Regions from separate parts of the Homo sapiens genome. Here all the other regions are linked to region 1. The links come from fine-mapping of genetic effects on gene expression. A gene starts in region 1. Each other region holds a variant in brackets. All regions are shown on one strand. Distances are from middle to middle.

What was found.
Region 2: its variant is fine-mapped to the expression of NINJ2 in NK cells (Gilchrist 2021, PIP 0.95). The same link has a PIP of 0.9 or more in monocytes and monocytes after interferon gamma.
Region 3: its variant is fine-mapped to the expression of NINJ2 in whole blood (TOPMed, PIP 0.91).
Region 4: its variant is fine-mapped to the expression of NINJ2 in whole blood (TOPMed, PIP above 0.99).
Region 5: its variant is fine-mapped to the expression of NINJ2 in whole blood (TOPMed, PIP above 0.99).
Region 6: its variant is fine-mapped to the expression of NINJ2 in whole blood (INTERVAL, PIP above 0.99).

What each region holds. Positions count from the first base shown.
Region 1 is chr12:661,480-665,566 of GRCh38, forward strand. NINJ2 (ninjurin 2) reads right to left here and starts at 1,966. Exons shown (of 4, transcript NM_016533.6): 1 at 1,849-1,966. The coding sequence starts at 1,881.
Region 2 is chr12:609,504-613,590 of GRCh38, forward strand. All of the region lies in intron 1 of NINJ2 (ninjurin 2), which reads right to left. Among named protein-coding and RNA genes, the nearest start is that of NINJ2-AS1, 19 kb to the right of the region's middle. RefSeq lists enhancers at 1-174, 428-929. The variant T/TTCTCTCTC (reference allele first, on the strand shown) is at 1,760.
Region 3 is chr12:619,822-623,908 of GRCh38, forward strand. The region is part of intron 1 of NINJ2 (ninjurin 2); the gene reads right to left. Among named protein-coding and RNA genes, the nearest start is that of NINJ2-AS1, 9.0 kb to the right of the region's middle. RefSeq lists enhancers at 3,148-3,892, 3,893-4,087. The variant G/A (reference allele first, on the strand shown) is at 2,416.
Region 4 is chr12:634,173-638,259 of GRCh38, forward strand. All of the region lies in intron 1 of NINJ2 (ninjurin 2), which reads right to left. The region is part of intron 3 of NINJ2-AS1 (NINJ2 antisense RNA 1); the gene reads left to right. Among named protein-coding and RNA genes, the nearest start is that of NINJ2-AS1, 5.3 kb to the left of the region's middle. The variant T/C (reference allele first, on the strand shown) is at 2,536.
Region 5 is chr12:586,161-590,247 of GRCh38, forward strand. The region is part of intron 1 of NINJ2 (ninjurin 2); the gene reads right to left. LOC105369595 (a long non-coding RNA gene) reads right to left here and starts at 326. Exons shown (of 2, transcript NR_134624.1): 1 at 88-326. It also overlaps the pseudogene RNU7-103P. The variant C/T (reference allele first, on the strand shown) is at 1,769.
Region 6 is chr12:627,026-631,111 of GRCh38, forward strand. The region is part of intron 1 of NINJ2 (ninjurin 2); the gene reads right to left. NINJ2-AS1 (NINJ2 antisense RNA 1) reads left to right here and starts at 3,866. Exons shown (of 5, transcript NR_122124.1): 1 at 3,866-3,960. RefSeq lists silencers at 3,652-3,731, 3,792-3,891. The variant C/G (reference allele first, on the strand shown) is at 2,259.

The DNA.
Region 1 (4,087 bases):
ACAAATGAAGAGAAAGGTACACTAACACCTCAGTTACCTGCTAGAGAGAGACATTCATCCAGCCTAGCCAGTCATTTCCTTCTCCTTCCTCCCACCACCTCTTTCCTTCTGAACCTCTGGTTCAGATGCAGAGTCCTTAGCCTGTAACTCTGGATCGTTCAACCCATCAGCACATAAGAAACTTGCTCTTCTGAGAATGAAAATAAGCAGCAACACAATTTCCTTAACAACCAAGGATCTTATAGAGGCAAGAACTAGAAGTAAGAAGAAAACACATACTAGGGACAGAAGACATGGACTGGAGGTCTTGGGCCAATTAGGTGACCTTATTCCTATCTCAGAGCCTCTCCAACTCATGGCTTCCTCAACTCATTCATTTAACAAATGTTTTCTAAAGCAATGACCGTGTACCAAGAGTTGCCTCATGCACTCGGGCTGCAGCAGTGAATAAAACAGGAGAGGCCCTGCCCTCAGAGATCTTGTGTCCTAGTGAGAGTGACAGGCAATACATACTAAATAAATAAGCAGTGTAACTTTAGGTGGTGAGCAGTGCTATGAAAGAAATTAAACAAATGATAAAGACAAATTGGGGAGGAGGCATCCTGTGAAGAGGTTGGTCAGGGGAGGGCTCCTGGGGGAAGTAACATTTGAGCTGAGACCTGAATGTACTAGGAAGGGCCAGCCAGGAGATAAGCCAGGGAAAGAAGGTTCCAGACAGAGGGACAAGCAAGCCTTGCGGTGGGACCGCTCTCGGGGCTGGCTGCCAATCCAGGAAAACAGCACTGGGTATGCAGTTGTACTAGGTGAATGGTTTTGACACAGCACACCAAGCAGTCCTACAGTTCCCTGGTGGTGTCTCAAGGGCGGAGGGGCCAAGGACAGAGACTCTGCCAGACTCACGCCACCCTGCCCAAAACACACACAGAGAACGAGAGAGAGAGAGAGAGAGAGAGACGCGTGCACATACTCTGCTTCAACAAAACAGCTCTTCTTTAATCCGAAGTGTATATTGGGTGGCTGCTTAAGATTTTGTTCGAGGACCAGGTTCAGGGATCAGAAATTCTTGATCTCAAAAGTCCTTTTCCACACTTTGTTTGATTCTCTGCAATGTTACACAGCCTCAGCAGTGGTCATAGAAGGGTTCGTTCTATTCTATCCATTGGCAAGGAGTCACAGAGTGCAGCTCCCAGCAATCTGGCTCTCCTCTCACCGTAACATCCCACCCTTTCCCCTCCAGCAGTGGACTGGAACCTCTGATGCCTTCCAAGCCCATCCCAGCTACAGAGGGACACACATCTCTGCCTCTTCCTAGGAGATTAGACTGATTTCCTTTCCTTGCACTGTCCAAATGAGACGCTTTCTGTCCTACACAGTAGAGCTTTGTGAAGACAGCCGAGAAACGGCTCAAGTTTTTTCCAACCTGTAAAATGCAAAGTTGGCCAGCTGCCTCTCTTCCTAGCCTCAAAACTCATATATTTCCTGTCTCCCCGGCAGCTCTAAGAGAAGTCTCTACTGTCCTGGGGTTTGGGGAAAGCACTGCTCAGAATGTGAAATCATTTTCTGGTAATACGGATCTAATTAGCTCTTTGACTGACAAGAGGAAGCAGAGGCCAAAAGGGAGTTAACCAATCTGTTTTTCAGATATTTCAAAACAAGTGAAGAACCAGATAGGGAAACAGAGAGAAAGAGAAAATAAAGAGACAAAGCCTAGGGAGCATTTGGAGAAGGGAGTGAGTAAGAAGAGAACGGGGAGGGAGAATATCAAGTGACTAAAGTATCAATCCTCTGTTCTTCCAGCTTCACCTCTACTCCCGGTCTCCCCTCTGCTCTCTTCCAGAGAGAACTTACTTGAAGGTCGATGTTTTCTCTTGCTGATTCCATCTCGCTGCCCTCAAGTCCCTTCACACGCACCGGGTGCCGGGAACAGACTGCGTGGGCTCCTCCAGGCTCCGCCGTCTGAGTCTCTGCTGCTTTCTTCGGGTGGGAGAGAGCACACAGCTGGCGGGACAGACCTGCCATTCATCCCTCTGATGTGGGATGCCCGTCTTGGCTGCAGCCTCTGGGGGAGGTGTGCACCTGCACACACGTGTGAGTGTATGTGTGTGCACATGTGTGTGCTCCAGGAGGTGGCACATGGCACACTGATAGGTGACCTTTTGAGTTGGTAGTGACAGCATCATTTTCACCAGTGGCTCCAGTGACCTTCCAGTCCCAGCGGAGCCATCTGAGGTCACCCAGCCTGCTTTGAGCTAGTAGCTTTATGACTGGCAAAGAAATCCTGCATGTTTATCAAGCAAATTGAAAAACAGCCTGAGGACAACGCTATCTGACTTCACCGCTGGGTCCAGTCCCCAGTCGCCACGGGTGGAGTGACCTCCAGCACAGTCTCAATACTGAGGCAGAGGGATTTCCGTTGTTCTTTGCTTTGTTCCCTATATCCCTAAAAGTTTTTAAAAAAATTGTAGTTTACCTAATAGGCTCCAAAGCATAGGCTTTGTTCTGCAAAGTGAGTGAACAATACGTTTTTACTGACGGATTGTTTGATTCCTTCAACTCCTCCCTTGATTAGCCATAGAGGGAGCAGGGAGTAGTTGTACCTTCGAAGCTTGTTTATGCAAACAGTGGTATTCTCCCTACTTTTAAAATAAAATTACCAGGAGGGAGTCTTTTTTTAGAAAGTTTTTTTTTTCCTCTCCTGTTTACCTTAGAGCCCAAAACTCTTCTGGCTTGTTCCTGAAGCAAGGTTTAGACACAAGCTTGTGCAGGTGTGGGTGTGGGTATGTCTGTAGACGTGCATGGCAGGGTGTTAACCTGTAATCCAATTCAGGGCTTGAAGAGGTGCGGGCAGGAGGAAGACAGGCAGAGTCAACACGTTTACCCTCACCACATTCAAATGTAAAAAAAAAAAAAGGCGATTTCTTCAGTTCTATGAAATGCCTTTATAAGTTCCCATCCCTCTGGACAGTGGTGCGAGGGAGGGTTGGATGATTGGATGGGGGCCATATTTTAGTCTAATCTATGAAGCATAGTTGGATTTAATCATTTAAATGGTAAACAGTCCACTTTAGACACAATGCTCAGTCTTTCGGATTTGCAGAAGATGGCACCTAGGTGCACAGGAGGGCGGGGTGGGGACGGTTCTTGCATCTATCCTGTGGCCTCTCCATCTCGGCTCCTTTCTGTTCTGGAGCTGCTGGGCCCACGGGCCCGCCCGAATTGCTGACTGCTGAGGAGACACAGGTCCTGCTCCTGGGTCTTCTGCTGGCCTTGGTGGCTGATGTCTGATATTAGGCCAGAGTCACTCATGGGTGATTCTCTTTCTGCCTTTGAGATCCAGTGTTCTCCCTTGCTGTCTGCGCTACCTTGGCTCGTGGCAATGTGGACCATCCTGAGACCTGGCTTTGACTTGTATGTGCCCCCATCCCACTGTATCCGCTCAGTGGCCCACATCTCTAAGATAAGCCCCTCGAAATTTTCCTGTGAGATGCTTGACCAGTGCTCCTGAGCCCCCTTAGGCACATGGGGACTGAGGGCTGCTGACGAAGGGCAGGGGAAAGGCAAGCTCAGCCCCACTTCCAGCAGAGTTTGCTCTGATGTGGCTGCTCCAACTGACACAGGGCAGTCTGCGAGGTGATCTCCTTCCACATTCCTGAATGGAAATGAGACCTGGAACCCACTCTTCTCAGCACTCCTTAAAAAGTCTACCAGTAATATCTATCACCCCACCGCTCATAATAATACCACTATGTATCAAGCACTATTCTAAGCACTTTTTTTTTTTTGAGATGGAGTCTCGCTCTGTTGCACAAGCTGGAGTGCAGTGGCGCCATCTCGGCTCACTGCAACTTCTGCCTCCTGGGTTCAAACGATTCTCCTGCCTCAGCCTCCCGAGTAGCTGAGATTACTTCTTCCCATAGTCCCCTTAATCTAGAATCAGAAAATGTACGCTTTGTCTTCTTTTTTTTTTTTTTTTTCCTGTTTGGCTGGGATGTATCTGATGTAGAACTCTATGACAACAATTCAAAGGGAAATGAAGAAATTTAGAAAATCCTCTCTCTCAAGAAAACCTGGTTGTCAAAAATATTGT
Region 2 (4,087 bases), 52 kb before region 1:
TCACGCCTGTAATCCCAGCACTTTGGGAGGCTGAGGCGGGTGGATCACGAGGTCAGGAGATCGAGACCATCCTGGTTAACATGGTGAAACCCCGTCTCTACTAAAAATACAAAAAAAATTAGCCGGGCGTGGTGGCGGGCGCCTGTAGTCCCAGCTACTCAGGAGGGTGAGGCAGGAGAATGGCGTGAACCCGGGAGGCGGAGCTTGCAGTGAGCTGAGATTGCACCACTGCACTCCAGCCTGGGCAACAGAGTGAGACTCTGCCTCAAAAAAAAAAAAAAAAATAGGGAAAACAACAACAGCAGCAATAGGGGACTTGTCCCAGCTACTGAGGAGGCTCAGGCAGGAGGATTGTTTGAGCCTAGGAGGTCTAGGCTGCAGTGAGTCATGATGGCACCACTGCACTCCAGCCTGGGCGACAGAGTGGCAAGACCCTGTCTTAAAAAAAAAAAAAAAAAAAGACGAAGGAGAGAAATAATGTTTGACCATGGAAGGTCACACATTTTTGTTGTAGCTAGAGCATGATCCAAGTCGATTCTGAGTCTGGGCCTCTTTCCACTCCCAGCTGTCCTACTAGCCTAATTCATCTGGCATCACTGGGGCCAAAAGCTACAAAGTCCATTTTGAGCTCTAACTTTGCAGAGTCATTTCCATCCTCCTGCCTTCCCCATCCTGACAAGTGCACATGCACACACACATTGCCAGACACCCAGCAGACACAGAATCAATGCTTTTGCGTGAGTGAAACAGCCCCTCTGGCAGCCCTCTTCACCTGCCCAGTCCCCAGTGCCCAGCACCCAGTGCTGAGCTGGTGAAGATCCCGTGGCCAGAGGCACACTTACCATATACATCATGACTCAGATCCCATTTGCTGACTTGGAACTGAAGCCTCTTGCCCCACCAAGCAATTACTGGAGAACAGGAAGTCTCAACGGAAAATGAGGTCAGCCTGGTGGCTGAGAGGAAAAGGGTCAGCGAGCACAGCCTTCTGCCCCCGTGGGTCCCCACAGCGGCCAGCCCAGGGCCCTGCATGCAGCAGATGCCCACCACAGCTTCACTGGTGGGTTAGCTGCTCTGAGCGACTCTGTTCAGCCCAGCCACAGGAGGGGGTTACCAGGCAGGGACTTAATATGTGGCTCTAGAGTCTGAAGGAGACAACTTCAACTCAACCTTGTTTAGCAGAACTGGGCTATGACAAGGACAACCACAGCACTGGAAATCTATTCTTTTTTTTTTTTTTTTTTTTTGAGACGGAGTTTCGCTCTTGTTGCCCAGGCTGGAGTGCAATGGTGCAATCTCGGCTCACTGCAACCTCTGCCCTCCAGGTTCCAGTGATTCTCCTGCCTCAGCCTCCCAAGTAGCTGGGATTACAGGCACCCACCACCATACCTGGCTAATTTTTTGTCTTTTTAGTAGAGACGGGGTTTCACCATGTTGGCCAGGCTGGTCTCAAACTCCTGACCTCAGGTGATCCACTTGCCTCAACCTCCCAAAATGCTGGGATTACAGGCATAAGCCACGGCACCTAGGCTGGACATCTATTCTTTAAAGAACTCTGTGTTACCAAATTCAGTTCTGCAATCTGTCCCAAGAACTTCCTTTTCTGTGCCCTAAGTTACGATAGAGGAAGAGGCACATCAACCCCAGGCCTGCCTGCCTTTCTTTCTTTCCTTCTTTTCTTTCCTCCTTTTCTTTCTTTTTCTTTCCCTCTTTCTTTCTTTCTTTTTCTTTCTTTCTTTCTTTCTCTCTCTCTCTTTCT[T/TTCTCTCTC]TCTTTCTTTCTCTCTCTCTTTCTTTCTCTTCCTTCCTTCCTTTCTTTCTCTCTCTCTCTCTTTCTTTCTTTTCTTCTTTCTTTCTTCCTTCTTTCTTTTTGTCTTGCTCTGTCACCCAGGCTGGAGTGCAGTGGCACGATCTTGGCTCATTACAACCACCACCTCCTGGGTTTACGCAATTCTCCTGCTTCAGCCTCCTGCATAGCTCAGATTGCAAGGGCACACCACCACACCCAGCTAATTTTTGTATTTTTAGTAGAGACAGGGTTTCACCATGTTGGCCAGGCTGGTCTCGAACTCCTGACCTCAAGTGATCTGCCTGCCTCAGCCTCCCAAAGTTGGGATTATAGGCATGAGCCACTGTGCCCGGCTCCCAGGGCTTTCTTGAAGTGGCATAAAAGTAAGAAAGGATTTTAGAAATCATTTAGTCTAAACTCCTCCTGGTTACACCTTTGGAAGCATTTCCCTGTAGATATTCTTCCCATACCCACCATACCTCTTTCTTGGCAATAAATAACCTGCTAGAAGTCAGAAGAGAGAAAAACTTCCATGAGTTTCCAGGAAGCGAGGCCATTATTACTTGTTGTAGGAGGTTGCCCCCCAATATCTATTTGACCTTCTTGCAGGATAGTAGAATATTTGACGGGATGCATGACCACTTAGCTAAAGTCAGCATTTCCCAATCCGTCTTGCAGCAGCAGGGCTGTATGACCAAGGTCTGGCTAATGAGAACTTAGCAAGAAGAATTGTGGCCCTAAAAGGAAGGCACCTGTCTTCTCTATCCCCTCCCTCCCTTTTTCCCAGGCTGGAATGTGGAGATTGTGGTGAGCATCTTCAATCATGTGTATAAGGTACATATCCCAGGAGCAGAGCAACAAGCTAGAAGGAGCTTGGGTCCCAAACACCGTGGAGCTACTGTATTATCCCTGGACTGTCTGCACGCAGACTATTACACACAGGCGAGAAATAAACTTCCATTTTGGTCTAAGCTGTTATTATTTGGCGTCTTGCGTCAGTGAAACCTGCATCCTAACACAACACTCTGTGGGGTGTCGGGGCAGTCGCAACCTCCCGTTCTCTGAGAAACCCCCAATTCCACACACCTAGGAGGTAGCCTGGTGACATTATATCCGGTCCAGGAATATCTGGCTCAGGCTGGGTAGAGTAGGGGCGGGAGTCCTGTCCAAGCAGGGCCAATCAGATTTTCCCTTCCATTAATCTGGAACTGAGATTCACTGTTGCTATTCAACCTCCACGGACTACATGAACCAAGATGCACCAGGAGAAGCAAAAATGAGAGGCCAGGCAGCCCCAGAAAAGCAGAGGGAAGGAGCTGTCTGGGTTGGTAGGGCTCGAGGTTCTGGCCCAGGCACTTGGATGACCTCCCTGATCTCCCTGTTGTGTGGTTCTTGGGAGAGATCCTGACACTTTATGATAAACTCCCTCTTTTGGTCTCAGATGCTTTAGGTTCCTTTCTGTCACCCGTAACCCAAAGTGCCTGAGTCTCTTCTGATCCTTGTAAAGATCTGTGTATCCTCAAAACCAGAGGACCCATGTGTCTGCAGCACACCCTTGGCACACCGGGTCCTCTCCGTCACTGCAATCATAGAAGGTCCTGAGGTGAACTAGGTAGATAGACAGATTGATCGCCTGATCGGCTGATTGGTGAATCAATCCATGGGTCTTCCAAGGGATGCTAAACAGGCCTCATGGAATCACAGAATCAGGGTGAAAGGGACAAAAGGCATCAGGCAAGGTGTGACCAGAAAGGCTTAGTGACATGTCCAAAGCGTGCAATTCAGTGGCAGAGTTTCAACTGGACCCCAGCCCAGCACTCCCAGGTTCACTCCTCCTCCCCTGCCATCCCTGGCTGGCCCAATCTGGGGGTGCTCTGACACACTAGGAATAGTTTCCCCATGCTAATGAGCAAAATCCCTGTGACAGCTATGTCAAATCAAGCATATCTGCGGCTCCTAAGAAAAATGAAAATGTATCCTTTTCTCCTTTTTCTGGGTCTTTCTCTATAATTCTAAATCTCATCACGCATTTTAAATAATAAATGGGCTGGGGGCGGTGGCTCATGCCTATAATCCCAGCACTTTTGTAGGCTGAGGCAGGTGGATCACCTGAGGTCAGGAGTTCAAGACTAGCCTAGCCAATATGGTGAAACCCCATCTCTACTAAAAGTACAAAAAATTAGCTGGGCATAGTGGCAGGCACCTGTAATCCCAGCTACTTGGGAGGCTGAGGCAGGAGAATTGCTTGAACTTAGGAGGCAGAGGTTGCAGTGAGCCAAGATTGCGACATTACACTCCAGACTAGGAGAC
Region 3 (4,087 bases), 42 kb before region 1:
TGGCTTTGAGTCCTATCTCTGCAGCTTTTAGTAACTGTGTGACATTGTCATTGACCTCTCTAAGCTTCAGTTTCCTCATCTATAAAGTGAAGATAATATTCCTTAATGGTCAGGGTTATAGTGAGGACTAAGTGAGGGAGGGCTCAGCTGCCAGCTTGGCATCCTCAGCCCATGGCAGCCGTGTCATGGCTTTGTGCTCCAGTTTGTTGCCAGGGCCTGGTGTTTCATGGTTCACTCTCTTGTCTGACTGTTTCCCAGATCAGGCAAGCCCTAAAGCGTCCTTTCATCCCTTTGGACACCTCCTAGTGACGGGAGAGCACAGGCAGTATGGGAGTGGGAAACTGGATGTCATAGCTGAGTGTCCATTCTATAGCTCGTGGGCATCATGCCATGGGCATCTCTTGACATAGTCAAGAGACCTGGATGGAAATGGGCCCCAAACTACTTCACTAGGAGCTTTGTTTTCCTAGACCACAGTTTCTTCATCTATAAAATAAACAGCTTAAATTAGACCAGCGATCCCCGCTTTGCGGGAAGGGGAGAGGGTCTCAGACAGTATGGGGTCCCTGAATCCAGATGCACAGCAAACATTGCCTAGAGAACAAATAGATGATGCGTCTCACACATAAAGCCTGTGCTGTTTGTCAAATGCACAGAGGTGCTGCTATAATTTTTAAGATACATGTAAAAAGTATTACTGAATGCATGGTAGCTTTTTCTCAGCATGCAGTTCTTCATTTGTAGATACTAAAAGTACAATTATGATTACTTGGAAGGATCCAAAAGTGGTTTTGAAGTTTGTTTGTTTGTTTGTTTGTTTGTTTTTGAGACAGAGTCTTACTCTGTCACCCAGGCTGGAGTGCAGTGGCGCAATCTTGGCTCACTGCAACCTCTGCCTCCTGGGTTGGAGTAATTCTCCTGCCTCAGCCTCCGGAGTAGCTGGGATTACAGGTGTGCGCCACAATGCCTGGCTAATTTTTGTATTTTTAGTAGAGACGGGGTTTTGCCATGTTGGCCAGGCTGGTCTTAAACTCCTGACCTCAGGTGATCCACCCACCTCGGCCTCCCAGAGTGCTGGGATTACAGGCATGAACCACTGCTCCCAGCTAAGGTTTTGAAGTCTTAAAGAGGTACTCAGGCTTGAAAAGTTTGGCTACCACTGGATGAGATGAAGGACTTACTCAGCCTCTCCTGGATGTGGCTCCTAATTCCAACCTAACAAACAAGCACTCCTGAGTCTCTAGCTTCACGTCCTTCTTGAAGAAATAGCAGCTACTAGAAGAGGTTCCCCTGTGGCAGTGAAGACAAACTAGAAGGAGAGACAAGTAAGAAAGAGTAGTGTACAACCAGGCATGGTGATTCACACCTGTAATCCCAGCACTTTAGGAGGCTGAGGCAGGAGGATTGCTTGAGCCCAGAAGTTCAAGACCAGCCTGGGCAACATAGAGAGATGCCATCTCTATAAAAAAATTTAAAAAAAAAATTAGCCAGGCATGATGGCACACACTTGTAGTCCCAGCTACTTGGGAGGCTGAAATGGGAGAATTGCTTGATCCTGAGAGTTTGAGGCTGTAGTGAGCTGTGATTGCACCACTGCACTCCACCCTAGGTGACAGGGTAAGACCCTGTCAAAAAGAAAAGAAAGAAAAAGAAAAAAAAAGAAAGAAAGAAAAGAAAAAGAAAAGAAAAAAAGAAAACAGAAAAGAAAAGAGAGAGAGCCTGGGCACAGTGGTTCACAACTGTAATCCCAGCACTTTGGGAGGCCGAGACGGGAGATGGGAGATCAAGAGATCAAGACCATCCTGGCCAACATGGTGAAACCCCATCTCTACTAAAAATACAAAAATTAGCTGGGCATAGTGGCGTGTGCCTGTAGTCCCAGCTACTCAGGAGACTGAGGCAGGAGAATCACTTGAACCCGGGAGGCAGAGGTTGCAGTGAGCCAAGATTGCGCCACTGCACTCCAGCCTGGTGACAGAGTGAGACTCCGTCTCAGAAAAAAAAAAAAAAAGAGAGAGAAAGAATAGTGTGGCCACGCACTGTGGCTCACACCTGTAATCCCAGCACTTTGGGAGGCCGAGGTGGGTGGATCACAAGGTCAGGAGTTCGTGACCAGCCTGGCCAAGATGGCGAAACACTGTCTCTACTAAAATTAGCCAGGCATGGTGGCAGGTGCCTGTAATCCCAGCTGCTCAGGAGGCTGAGGTAGAGAACTGCTTGAACCTGGGAGGCGGAGGCTGCAGTGAGCTGAGATCACGCCACTGTACTCCATCCTGGGTGACAGAGCAAGACTGTGTCGGGAAAAAAAAAAAAAAAAAGGCCAGGCGCAGTGGCTCATGCCTGTAATCCCAGCACTCTGGGAGGCCGAGGCGGGCGGATCATGAGGTCAGGAGATCGAGACCACGGTGAAACCCC[G/A]TCTCTACTAAAAAATACAAAAAATTAGCCGGGTGCGGTGGTGGGTGCCTGTAGTCCCAGCTACTCAGGAGGCTGAAGCAGGAGAATGGCATGAACCCGGGAAGCGGAGCTTGCTGTGAGCTGAGATCACGCCACTGCACTCCAGCCTGGGTGACAGAGTGAGACTCCGTCTCAAAAAAAAAAAAAAAAAAAAAAAAAGGAAAGAAAGAAAGAAAGGGGCTACCTAAAGAGAGGAAGACAACTTTTATAAGAAACTCTGGGAAATGCTCAGGACTCTATTTGTTTAAAGGCCCTTTTTAAGAAATGCTTGCCACTTCCTAGTATTTGTCATTGTTTCCTACTGCACACGTTTGCAGCATATGGGAAGTGGGAGGAGTTAGAATGTCCTCCAAATTCCCCTGACACCCAGTTCCCACCTTCATCCTCTAGAAAAATGTGTTGCTTTGTTTTGTTTAACTTTTCGGGTCACAGACCCTTTCAGAATCTGATAAAGGTGATGGACCCCCTACCTCACCCTAAATGCAGTCACACACGGATAGCTTTTCTTTTTTTTTTAATTTTAATTTTTTTCATGAATAACTTTTCACATAATTTCAGCAGGTTCATCGCCTCCTGAGTTCACATGGACCCCCTTGGGAATTTATGGACACCCCCGCCCAGGTTAGGAAAACCTGCTCTTGTGTGGGTTGCTTCAAACAAGTTTAAATTTGCCTTCTCCTAGTTGTCCATAGATCTAAGCTTTTTCTAAAAGTCCCATGGAACTTGTAATGAGACCTCTAAATGTCCCATATCCCAAAATGCTGTTGTAGGCTTCTTAGATTTTGGAAGACCAGATCAGCAAAAGACAGCATGCACTCAGGTGGAATATTGCAAAGGTAGACATCAGCTCAAGGCTAGCTTCTCTGGGCAGCTGGTGCAAGGTGAATGGAAGCAAGATAGGGGCTCAGGAACAGAGTCCATCTGAGAGCCAGCACTCCCTCCTGACAGTGACAGTTTTGTAAGTTTCTGTCCTAGGAGCTGTGGGCCTGCAGACCTGTGGTCCTTGAAGTGGAAAGCTGCTCCCATCTCTAGGAAGGATCTCCCAGCCTCTGTCCCCCTCCCCCACTGCTACCCGAGCAGCTCTCCCTTCACCTCAGGCCCTGTGTGACACACCTTTCCCCAGGGTTCCTGCCCCGGCAGCCTGCCCTGTCTGTTAGTGCTGTGAGTCTCTGAATGTACCAGCCAAAATCAGGGAAGGTTTCTTCCCACCCACTCAAAACTTCACTTTTCTCATCATCCAAACTCCGAATCTAAAAGCCTAGTTGTTATTTACCAACTTGCGTCCAAATCCACTCTTGGGCTTAGTTTGCAACCAGCATGTACCCTGGGATGAGTGAGAGGCGACAGGCTAGGAAGGGATCTGGGGTTTATTAGTGACAGACCAGGCTGCTAGGTTTGGCTGAGGTGCCACAATTTGCACCAGGCAAGGGAGGTGAATTCAAATACCAGGATGTTGGGCAATATTTCAAAGAGTGAGGCTGGGCATGGTGGCTCATGCCTGCAATCCCAGTACTCTGGGAGGCTGAGGCAGAAGGATCGCTTGAGCCCAGGAGTTCAAGACCAGACTGGGCAACACAGTGAGACCCTGTCTCTACAAAAAATTTTAAAAGTAGCTAGGTGTGGTTGTGCACAC
Region 4 (4,087 bases), 27 kb before region 1:
CTATAAGCCACCATGAGTTCAGCACAACTTATGTAAGTTATAGTGCCTCACATAAGTTGTGCTCACTAAATAAATGTTGATTAGTTGCAGTTCTTTTTTTTTTTTTTTTTTTTTTTTTGCACTGTCTCCCGGGCTGGAGTACAATGGCACGATCTCGGCTCACTGCAACCTCCGCCTCCCAGGTTCACACGATTCTCCTGCCTCAGCCCCCCTAGTAGCTGGGATTACTGGCGCCCACCACCACAGCCGGCTAATTTTTTGTATTTTTAGTAGAGACGGAATTTCACCATGTTGGCCAGAATGGTCTTGAACTTCTGACCTCGTGATCCGCCTGCTTCGGCCTCCTAAAGTGCTGGGATTACAGGCATGGGCCACCGCGCCCGGCCTAGTTGCAGTTCTTTTTCTTCTGCAGTAAAGGCCAAACACACACAAAATCAGTCTCCTCCCAATCCTGACTTGCATCCTCTAAGTTTAGTAGCACAGAGAGAAAATGTAGAGAATGGTCGTACCCAAGATATTAAGGGGGGATGAGTTCAAGACAAAATAAAATGTTTGCCCAACGCTGACATTTTAAATGCTCATCTGAAAATTGGCACCTCCAGAATGTTGCCCTCTTCAGAGCATTCAGACCCAGGGCACCATAACATTAAATTCCTTTGTGTTTAAGACATTTCCTCTTAATTCTCTTTCTCTTTGAGGGAATGGTATAAGTACAAGAGGTTGGAAGAAACCATACACTTCTTTTTTAAAAAATAGAGACAGGAGCTGGTCATGTTGCCCAGGCCAGTCTAGAATTCTTGGTCTCAGGCTAATCCTTCCCCATCGGCCTGCCAAAGTGCTGGGATTACAGGTGTCAATCACTACACCCAGTCCCCATATACTTTTTTTTTTTTTTTTTGAGACGGAGTTTTGCTCTTGTTGCCTAGGCTGGAGTGCAATGGCATGATCTTGGCTCACTGCAACCTCCGCCTCCCCGGTTCAAGTGATCCTCCTGCCTCAGCCTCCTGAGTAGCTGGGATTACTGGCACGTGCCACCACATCCTAAATTTTGTATTTTTAGTAGAAACAGGGTTTCGCCATGTTGGCCAGGCTGGTCTTGAACTCCTGACCTCAGGTGATCTGCCTGCCTCGGCCTCCCAAAGTGCTAGGATTACAGGCATGAGCCACCAGGCCTGGCCCCTGTATACTTCTTTAAATGCAATAGAGCAGACATATAGACCAGTGGAATAGAATAGAGCCCCAAAATAAACCCTTGCCTATATGGTAAACTGATTTTCAGCAAGGCTTCCAAGACCACTCAATGGGGAAAGGATAATCTTTTCAGTAAATGGTGCTGGAAAAACTGGATAGTCCCACATACAAAAGAATGAAACTGGACCCTTACCTTATGCCATATACAGAAACTAACTCAAAATGAACCAAAGACCTAAACTTGAGAGTTAACACTGTAAAACTCTTACAAGAAAACACGGGGAAAAATCTTCATGACATTGGACTTCACAATGATTTCTAGAATATGACAGCAAAATTGCAGGCAACAAAAGAAAAAAACAGATAAATTAGATTTCATCAAAATACAGAACTTGCGCACCAAAGGACACTATTAAAAGAGTGAAAAGGGGCCGGGCGCGGCGGTTCACGCCTGTAATCCCAGCACTTCGGGAGGCCGAGGCGGGCAGATCATCTGAGGTCAGGAGTTCGAGACCAGCCTGGCCAACATGGTAAAACGCTGTCTCTAATAAAAACACAAAAAAATTAGCCGAGCATGGTGGCAGGTGCCTGTAATCCCAGCTACTCAGGAGGCTGAGGCAGGAGAATCGCTTGAGCCTGGGACGCAGAGGTTGCAGTGAGCCAAGAGTGTGCCACTGCACGCCAGCCCGGGCAACAGAGCGAGACTCTGTATAAAAATAAATAAATAAATAGGCCAGGCGTGGTGGCTTACGCCTGTAATCCTAGCACTTTGGGAGGCCGAGGCGGGTGGATTACCTTAGGTCGGGAGTTCGAGGCCAGCCTGACCAACATGGAGAAACCCCGTCTCTACTAAAAACACAAAATTAGCCAGGCGTGGTGGCACGTGCCTGTAATCCAAGCTACTCGGGAGGCTGAGGCAGAAGAATCACTTGAACCTGGGAGGCAGAGGTTGTGGTGAGCTGAGATCATGCCATTGCACTCCAGCCTGGGCAACAAGAGCAAAACTCCATCTCAAATAAATAAATAAATAAATAGATAAATAAATAAAAATTAAAAAATAAAAGAGTGAAAAGACAACCTACAGAATGGGAGAAAATATTTGTAAACCATATTTCTGTTAAGGAATTAATATCCAGAATAGATAAAGAACTCCTACAACTTAACAGCGAGAAAACCAAACAACTCAATTCAAAAAAGGAGAAGGAACTAGGGTAGACATTTCTCCAAAGAAGACACACAAATGGCCAACAAGCTTCATGAAAAAAGGCTCAATGTCACCAGTCATTAGACAAATACAAATCAAAACAAAATGAGATACAACTTCTTACCTGTTAGGATGACTAT[T/C]TGAAAAAAATGAAAGAAGAAAGAAAAAAAAGCAAGTTTTGGTAAGGATACAGAGAAACTGAAATTCTCATGCATGACTGGTGAGAACGTAAATGATGCAGCCAGCAGCCACTGTGGAAAACAGCTTGGCAGTTCCTCAAAAAGTTAGAGAATTACCATATGACTTAGCAATTTCATTCCTAGGTGTGTACCCCAAAAAACTGAAAGAAAGGACTCAGATACCTATACACCAATGTTAATGGCAGCATGTTCACAACGGCGAAAAGAAACAAGCCAGTGTCCATCAGCAGATGAATGGATAACCAAATGCGATATATTCATACAATGGAATATTTTTCAGGCTAGAAAGGAAGGAAATTCTGGCCAGGCACAGTGGCTCACACCTGTAATCCCAGCACTTTGGGAGGCCCAGGCTGGCAGATCACAAGGTCAGGAGTTCAAGACCAGCCTGGCCAACATGGTAAAACCCCGTCTCTACTAAAAATACAAAAATTAGCCAGGCGTGGTGGTGCACTCCTGTAATCCTAGCTGCTCAGGAGGCTGAGGCAGGAGAATTGCTTGAATCTGGGAGGTGGGGGTTGCAGTGAGCCAAGATTGTGCCACTGCACTCCAGCCTGGGCGACAGAGCGAGACTTCATCTCAAAAAAAAGAAGGCTGGGCATGGTGGCTCAAGGTTGTAATCCCAGCACTTTGGGAGGCCGAGGCAGGCAGATCACGAGGTCAGGAGTTCACAACCAGCCTGGCCAACACGGTGAAACCCCCGTCTCTACTAAAAATACAAAAATTAGCTGGGCATGGTGGCAGGCACCTGAAATCCCAGCTACTCGGGAGGCTGAGGCAGGAGAATCGCTTGAACCCTAGAGGCAGAGGTTGCAGTGAGCCAAGATTGTACCACTGCACTCCAGCCTAGGCGACAGAGTGAGACTCCATCTCAAAAAAAAAAAAAAAGAAAAAGAAAAAGAAAAACCTTTACCCCAATTAATGTACCCCAAATGCCATTGGGTAGGGCCTTGCAGAAGGAATGCTAAGTGTGGGCTTTGACACAACCCAATTCCCTGTGGCAACCAGGTGTTGCTGGTTTAGGTTAGTGATTAGTGCTTACGGGTGGGGTAAAAGAAATACAGCCTTGGCTTATGAATACCTAGGCACAGAATGTCCCCACCTCGGCCCTATGGGGCAACTGTTCTCACAACCCTGTGAGTTCTTCCCAAGGAATCAGGGCCAAAGGATTAAGGACCTCAAAAAAAGGGAGTTCTCATTCCAGCTCCTTCAGCAGAGTCACTGTACCTTGAAGGACCAGCACCATTTGTGCTTCAGGGAAAACAACACTGGAAAACAACAAAGGCCTCTACCAGAAGGTGGGAGTGGGAACTCTCCCCTGCACCCCTATGCTTTAGGAGGAAGGTGCTGCCCACATGCTAAGCCAGTTGCAGGAGAGCACCTAGGCCTGCTGCATTCCACCTCCTGCAGAGACACCTGTGTGCTCCTGTGTTGTAGCTTGTTAAGGGAGTGTAGACTTGTCCTTCTTGTGTTGAGTAATTTTTCAGGGAGG
Region 5 (4,087 bases), 75 kb before region 1:
GGCAAAAGCAGAGAATTAGACCAAATGCAGGACCCTTCTCAGCACAGGGCCCTCCTGAGCAGATCCTGGGAAGCTGGCCCAGCCTACCTGGAAGAGCAGGAGATAAGAACTTGGGATTTCTGGTGACCAGGAGGATCACAGGCCTTGGGAAAGCCAGTGGCTGCTTCATTATTTCCATCCCGGGTCAAGTTCGGCCTCCAGAAGGTGAGATGGCCCAGCCAGATCTGGCTCTGTCCTTAGCCCTTCCCTCTGGTGGCCTGCCACTCTCAGATGATGGTGTCAACAAGACCAGAGGCTGCTGGCTCTTTTCTCAAAAGCCAGGACCAGGGAACAGCGCAAAATACAAAGGCCAACGCCTTCACTGGAGGAAGGGGTGGGAGCTGCTTCTCCCTGGGCAGCGCACGCCCACTCAAAGGCATCCAACCTCAAAGTGCATAAGCTCCCATCCGCCCACAGGGCATGCGTTTCGGCCCTATGTCCAACCTTCCCGTTTTACAAATCAGGACACAGAACCATCGGGGCAAGGGACCTCTCCAAGGCAACAGAACTGGGCAGTGCTGAAACTGGGACAAAGGCTTCTGTGACTCCCACCAGGGTCCTTTCCCCAACAGCCAGGTGCCTTTCTGTGCCCTCTGACTGGATCGTAGGGATCCAGGTGTGGGGATCCCTCTGCAGTGACCTTCACCTTCGGGGCCCTGCTCCCATGAGAATCACTGTTGCCCACGGGGGACGCCATTCACTGGGCTCTGGTATTGTGGAATGGAGTTGAAGTTTGGATGGAAGAGCTCACTGTCCCCTCTGCAGGCCTTTAACCCTTAGTGTGAGCAGATGGTAGAACCCCTGCCAGTGCCAAGAGGGGTTCATACCAATATCTGGGATAAACAAGGCCAAAGGGAAAGCGTAGGCTCCCCAAGCACAGTTTCTTTTCTTGCTACTAAACACCTGTGGGAGGAGGAGGCTCAGCCCTTCCTGTGGAGCATCTCTGCCAGGGTTCAATAGTATTGGACTAGAGTCCTGATCTGGGTCAACAAAAAGACTAGGGGACCAGGAGGCAAGAGTCAGCTCACCAGGACGGGCTGCAAACGGGGAGGTCTGCATCCAGGGTGAAGCTGCCCCTCCACAGGAAGCAGGCCCAGGAACCCCTGGCAATGCAGACAGGCTGAACCCACAGCACAGCCCCCATGGCGGGAGCAACTCCCGGTCAAGCGGCGGCAGGAAGTGCCCCAAAGGTGTCCACTTTTATTGTGCAGGACAGAATGTCTGCACATGCACCATCTTACAGAATTTGCACAGCTGCCTAAGGACAGAAGCTGAGGCTGCATTGTAAGGACACGCAAAGGGAGCCCCAGAGGACTGAAGTCCCTTTCTTAGGGCTCCTCAGGCTCTCTGACCAGTGAAGTTCTACAGCTGGGAGGGGAGCTGGGCTTTCCTAGTCTTGGCCCGATGCTTGTGGTCTGGCCTCTGACCACTCTCCATCTCACCCTGCCCAGCGCTGAGCCATTCTTCCCTGCCCCGGGGCCTCTGTGCAGGTGGGGGGTGGGGGTGGCCAGGGACCCTGCGCCTCACAGGCAGGTCACCAGGATCTGTAGAGCAGATTGAACACCCCATCCCCCGTGTTTGAAATGCCCTCTGGGCCCTTCCTCGCCGTCCACCCAGGAAGCTCTTCCTTCCATTAAGCTGGTTATTTCCACCACAGGGCCTTGGTGACACCTCTCACCTGATCACTATCCGTTCTCTCACTGGACGGTGAACTCCTTCAGGGTAGGAG[C/T]CGTAGTATGAGGCTGGCACTTACTGATAACTAGTAGTTGTTTTATCCATGAAGGGAGGGGACGACCTACACAGGCCTACACTTTAGGCATGACACGACAGCCAACATAGTCCCCAGACCAGTGTATCATCCTTCCACTATGTAAACACAGATAGGTTTCCCCTTGAAAAAAATTCCCACTATGTGAAAAGCCAAATCAATTTACAAGACAGCAAAATGGCGGAAGGAAGGGAAGGGACGGAAGGGACGGAAGGGACGGAAGGGACGGAGGGGACGGAAGGGACGGAGGGGACGGAAGGGACAGAAGGGAGGGAAGGGAGGAGGAGACATCTTGCAAATGGACTCCCCGCAGACTCCTTCAAATAGTCCCCTTTGTGAATCTCTTTCTAATCTTAGAATGAGGAAAACCTTTATAACTATGACATCAAATCCGGAAGCCATAAAGGATTAATACATTTGACTGCATAAAATTAAAATTATTTGAATGCAAAATAATAATAGCATATACACTTATAGCGCTCATTTCATGTCAAACCCTGCACAGAACACTTTATATATCTGAAGTCGTGTCATTCTCATAACAATCCCTGGGATAAGTACTGTCCTTATCTAAGGGACTCTGAGGTTAAGTAACTAAACTATGGTCATTCAGCCAGTAAGTTACAGACAAAACCCAGTAGCCTGCCTTCAGAGTGTGTGCTCCAGCCATTTCCTCGACCACCACACACCACACAAAATCAGGAGACAAAGAGAAACGGGGGGAACACTGCTGCACAGAGCACAAAGGACTGATTATCCTGAAGTCTGTGGAGGCCTTAAAAATGAGCCAACAGAAAAACTGAGTACAAACAAGCAAGCCCCTGAAGAAACATCACAAATCTGTGTAATAGATATGATAGCCTACATGATTGGCGAAGACTTAAGAGACTGATAATACTCAGTGTTGGTGAAGACATGGCTAAGCAAGCACTTTCACGTCCTTGGTAGAAATGTAAATTACTACCAAACGTACCAGAATTGTTACAATCATTTTTTTTTGGAGGACAATCTGACAATTATCTATTAAAATTTAAAATAGTCTTACCTAGTAAGTCCACTTCTAGGAGTCTCCCACAGAATAAGTCTCCCACAGAAAATGCTCCCCAAAGCTCAAAAAGACAAGCTATTCCATGCATCATTATTGATAATGTCAAAAACTGGGAATGAGCCAAATTGTAATCAAGGGTGTGTGGGCTAAATAAGCTGGCCTACAACCACACAATTAAATACTACATGTGTCTTTGAAAAGAGAGAGGTGTTCTTGTTCAATCAGTAAAAAACAATGGACAAAATGAAACAAAACAAAAAGAATGAGGTAGATCCCTATGATTAGATACAGAAGATATCTAAAATGTATTTAGTGGGGAGCAAGTCAGTAAGAACATGATATGATTCTATATTGGTAAAAATGAAACAAAGTATTCAGAGGATCTACTTTATATTTCAATGCATTAGAATAAGCACAGGAAACAGATATGGGAGGAATTTCTATCACACTAAAGACTTTCCCTTTCTTTCTAAGTTATGTATTTTCCCAATTGTAGGTTGTTTTCTCATGGGAGTTTGGTTTCAGTAAAAACCAGAGAACCTGCTAGACAAATTCTAGAAGAGCTCTAACACTTCCACTTCTAATTTTTCACACCTAAGACATCATCCTGTTACAATCAGGAAAAATATAATAAAGATGAAATTAAATATGCGATAAATAGCAAAAAACACCTTCCCTGTTTCTTTCTTTCTTCTACAAGCATGTGCTGGGTATGCCTCCTGAGTCCTAGGCACTGATGTCTCAGGCTGGGCATGCAGAGACGAATCCATATGGCTCCTGCTCTCAAGAAACTTCTGGAAGGGGGGAAACAGTTGGTAAATTTAGGGGGGGATTGTCTCCTGGACTCAGTTTTCCTCCGTGGGGTGAGGCAGATGGGCTGCTGTGGCAGCCGTCTCAGAGAGGGCGGGGTCTCCCTGTCAGGACCCAAGGGGTCCTAGGGTACAGGTGGAAGGCAGAGGTGGAGCGGTGTGGGGCAGCGGATCAGGGAGGGGCTGATGAGGCACTTAGGCTTTGTCCTGAGGGCAGCAGGGAGCAGTAGGAAGGTTATCCGCAGCCAGTGGCATCCTTAGAGCAGCGTCTTATTTTTTATTTTCGTTATTTTCTGTAGAGACGGTGTCTTGCTATATTGCACAGGCTGGTCTGGAATCCTGGTCCCAAACAAGTGGTCCTCCTGCCTCAGCCTCCCAATGTGCTGTAGCAGCATTTTAGCAGGACCATGATGGAAGCGGCTC
Region 6 (4,086 bases), 34 kb before region 1:
AGTGAGCTATGATTGTACCACTGAACACCGGCCTGGGTGACAGAGCCAGACCCCATCTCAAAAAAAAATTCAATAGAATAATTTGTGTAAAGTGCTAAATACAGTAATGGCCCATAGCAAGCACCTAATAACTGTTAACTATTATTTTTGAATTAAATCATAGCATCCAACCTGAAAAGCAATATATGGCAATAAGGAATTTTCTAGGCCATGCCTTTAGAATTTTTATCATCCTTTTAGAATTGAAGCTTCTTGTTAGAAGATTCTGTCCTGTATTTTCATGGATGCCCCAACAGCCACCCTCCCTGCCTTGCAATCAAACAGGTGCTCAAATATTTTTTGAGAATATAATTAAGTACATTTCTACTTTCTAATTTCTAAATGAATGAAATAGAGAACTAGGAAACTTAGGACAGTAAGACTGATGTCAGCTGGGCAATCAGAGAAGGCTTCATGGAGGAGGTGAGACTGACGTAGCCCTTGACAAGTTCGATAGGATTTAGATGGATAAAGTGAAGCAAGGAAAATTCTAATTATTGGAGCCTCGAATGGGTTGGGTGTTCATGAGAGGCAGGGGCAGACTTCGTGGGTACAGCTGCAGCATACTGCACACACATTAAGGGTGGCACCTCTGTGCCCAGACCTGGGCTTAAGTGGAACCAGACTCGCCTGGGACAGACTTTGGGCGCAGTGACAGGAGCCCATCAGCTGCTCAAGAGACCCCTGCCAAAATCTCAACTGGAGCTGGGCACAGTGGCGCATGCCTGTAATCCCTGGGCACAGTGGTGCATGCCTGTAATCCCAGCTACTTGCGTGCCTGAGGCAGGAGAACCCGGGAAGTGGAGGTTGCAGTGAGCTGAAATTGGGCCACTGCACTCCAGCCTGAGCGATAGAGCGAGACTCCGTCTCAAAAAGAAAAAAAAAGTCTCAATCAGCTAGGCCAAGTCCTTCCTGTCCTGTCCCTGTCCCTGCCGCATCCTCCCCGCCCTGCCCCCGGCTCCTCTTTCACACCCTGTGCCAGACAGAAGGCCTGGGAGTGAAAAGACTGGCCATGGGGACAGAGAGCTGGATCCAAAGGTCAAGGCTGAGTTTGCCAGAGCCTGCAGGATCCCTGCACCGCTTTACTGGATCCCCAGGTTGAGCTGAGATGCTGCTCTGGGTGGAGAAGGGGCCATGAGCCTCTGGCAGGCCTCTGTGTCACACCTTTCCACCAGGGAAAACTGGGTGTGGATGTTTCCCCTTCGTATGTACTCTGAGATCTCTATGAGGAGTCTTCCTAGAGGGGAAGGGGGAAGCCTCCTCATAGAGATCTCAGAGTACATAGGAAGGAGCCAGGTCTTTCCGTTCTTCTGCGTCTCCTCACAGCGTCACCTACAAGGGTCTGGCACACAGTGGACACTCTTCCTGGCTTTTCTGGTACAGAGTGACCAACATAACAGTTAATAGCATTTCCTCATTTTACAGACAGGGAAAGCAAAAAACATAAGCATGGTAATGCATATATAATACGTGTCTATGGCAGAGGCATTCGAACCAGAATGACTCCATCTTGAATAGGGGCTGGTAAAATGAGGCTGAGACCTGCTAGGTGGCATTCCCAGGAGGTTAGGCATTCTTAGTCACAGGATGAGATAGGAGGTCAGCACAAGACACAGGTCACAAAGGCCCTGCTGATAAAGCAGGATGCAGTAAGGAAGCCTGCCAAAACCCACCAAAACCAAGATGGCAATGAAAGTGACCACTGGTTGTCCTCACTGCTCAGTATATGCCAATTATACATTAGCATGCTAAGAGACACTCCCACCAGCACCATGGCAGTTTACAAATGCCATGGCAACACCTGGAAATTATCCTATATGGTCTAAAAGAAGGAGGAGTCCTCAACTGGGGGAGGGGGAAAATCTCCATCTCCTTCCCAAAAAGCTCATGAATAACCCACCCCTTGTTTAGCATATGATCAAGAAATAACCATAAAAATAGCCAACCAGCAGCCCTCAGGGTTGCTTTGCCTATAGAGTAGCCATTCTCGTGTTTCTTTACTTGTCTAGCAAACTCGCTTTCACTTTACTTCATGGACTAGCCCAGAGTTCTTGTACAAGATCCGAAAAACCCTCTCTTGGGGTCTGGATCGGGACCCCTTTCTGGCAATGATACCCTCTTATTGTGGTAATTCATTTAATCCTCACAATGATCCTCTGAGGTAGGTGCCATTATTATCTTCATTTTACATGTGGGAAAACTGAAGCCGGAAGGATGAA[C/G]AGCTTCCCAAGTTCACCGAAGGAGTAAGTGGTCCACAGGACTAGGAGCCTGGGATTTGCACCGAGGCAGTCTGGCTCTGTTCTCCATTGGCCACTGCGATGCCACCTGGGTGGAGGGAGCACAGGTCCAATGGCGGGGAGAGTACAGTACAACCCAGGATCCTGTCTTCCAGGTCTCTCCACGCAATTAACCTACTCAAAACTTCATGACAGTCCAGCAAGCTTGTCCAACCCACAGCCTGTGGGCCCCGTGCAGCCCAGGACGGCTTTGAACGCGGCCCAAAACAAATTCGTAAATTGTCTTAAAACATTATGAGTTCTTGGTTGGGCATGGTGGCTCACGCCTGTAATCCCAGCACTTTGGGAGGCCGAGGCAGGTGGATCACCTGAGGTCAGGAGTTTGAGACCAGCCTGACCAACATGGAGAAACCTCGTCTCTACTAAAAATGCAAAATTAACCAGGCCTGGTGGCGCATGCCTGTAATCCCAGCTACTCAGGAGACTGAGGCAGGAGAATCACTTGAACCTGGGAGGCAGAGGTTGTGGTGAGCCGAGATCGTGCCGTTGCACTCCAGCCTCGGCGACAAGAGCAAAACTCAAAAAAAAAAAAAAAATATATATATATATATATATATATATGAAGTTTCTTTGCGATTTTTTAAAAGTGTATCAGCCATTGTTAGTGTTGCTGTATTTTATGTGTGGGGCAAGACAATTCTTCCAATGTGGCCCAGGGAAACAAAACAATTGGACACCCTGGATGATGAAAAAGAGCACTCTTCAGCCCCTGCTGTCACCAAAGCCCCACCTCAGTTCTTGCCCTTAGGTAACGCCAAGATAGCAAAATGGAATTTTACCAAACCGCTCTTAGGTTCCTTCCCCAGGAGACCAGAAATGCCCTGGGGACTGCCTGCCTTTGAGGCAAATTTTTTTTCCTTTTTAAAGAAAGTGGTAAACATCTGAAAATAGAGTTTTTGAAAGAAAGTGACTCTTCAGTTGTAATTATAGCAGAGAGGGTCATTGCTTTCTATCAGCAAGAAAGCTGCTTCTATTTTTTTTTATTCTCTTTTTCTTGGTTTTTTGTTTTGTTTTGTTTTGTTTTGTTTTTTGAGACGGAGTCTCGCTGAGTTGCCCAGGCTGGAGTGCAGTGGTGTGATCTCGGCTCACTGCAAGCTCCATCTCCCGGGTTCAAGCGATTCTCCTGCCTCAGCCTCCCGAGTAGCTGGGACTGCAGGCTCCGGCCACCACGCCTGGCTAATTTTTTTTGTATTTTTAGCACAGACGGAGTTTCACCATGTTGACAGGCTGGTCTCGAACTCCTGGCCTCAGGTGATCTGCCCGCCTCGGCCCCCCAAAATGCTGGGATCACAGGCGTGAGCCACCGCTCCCCGCCGCTGCTTCTAAATACAGCCTGTATAATGCAAATCCCCAAAGAGGGCCAGCCTCTGGCCCCATTCAGCTTCCTCCCTCAGAGGCTGGGTGCGTGCGCCCTGGGCGGGGCGGCGGGCTCCCTCCGGAGAGGCCCCAGCCCGGCCTCGTGCCCCTCCCCAGCAGGCTTCCGGCCCTGCGCACAGACCCAAATGGCGCGGGAGGAGGAAGAAGGGGTCAGCTTCAAGCCTGACGTTCTAGGGGGGAGCCGCTTCTTAAGTACGTGCTAGGATCAAGGGTGCATTTGCAAACTTTTCAAAATGCCTTAGAGGAGGTAGGAGTCAAGCCCTTGGGATCTGGAGGGGAAGGAGGAGAGTCAGTTAAACCGCAGAAAGGTTGGTGGGGAGTGGGCTCAGTAATGGCCCCTGTCACAGCCTCGGGCCGGGACTCGCCAGCTCAT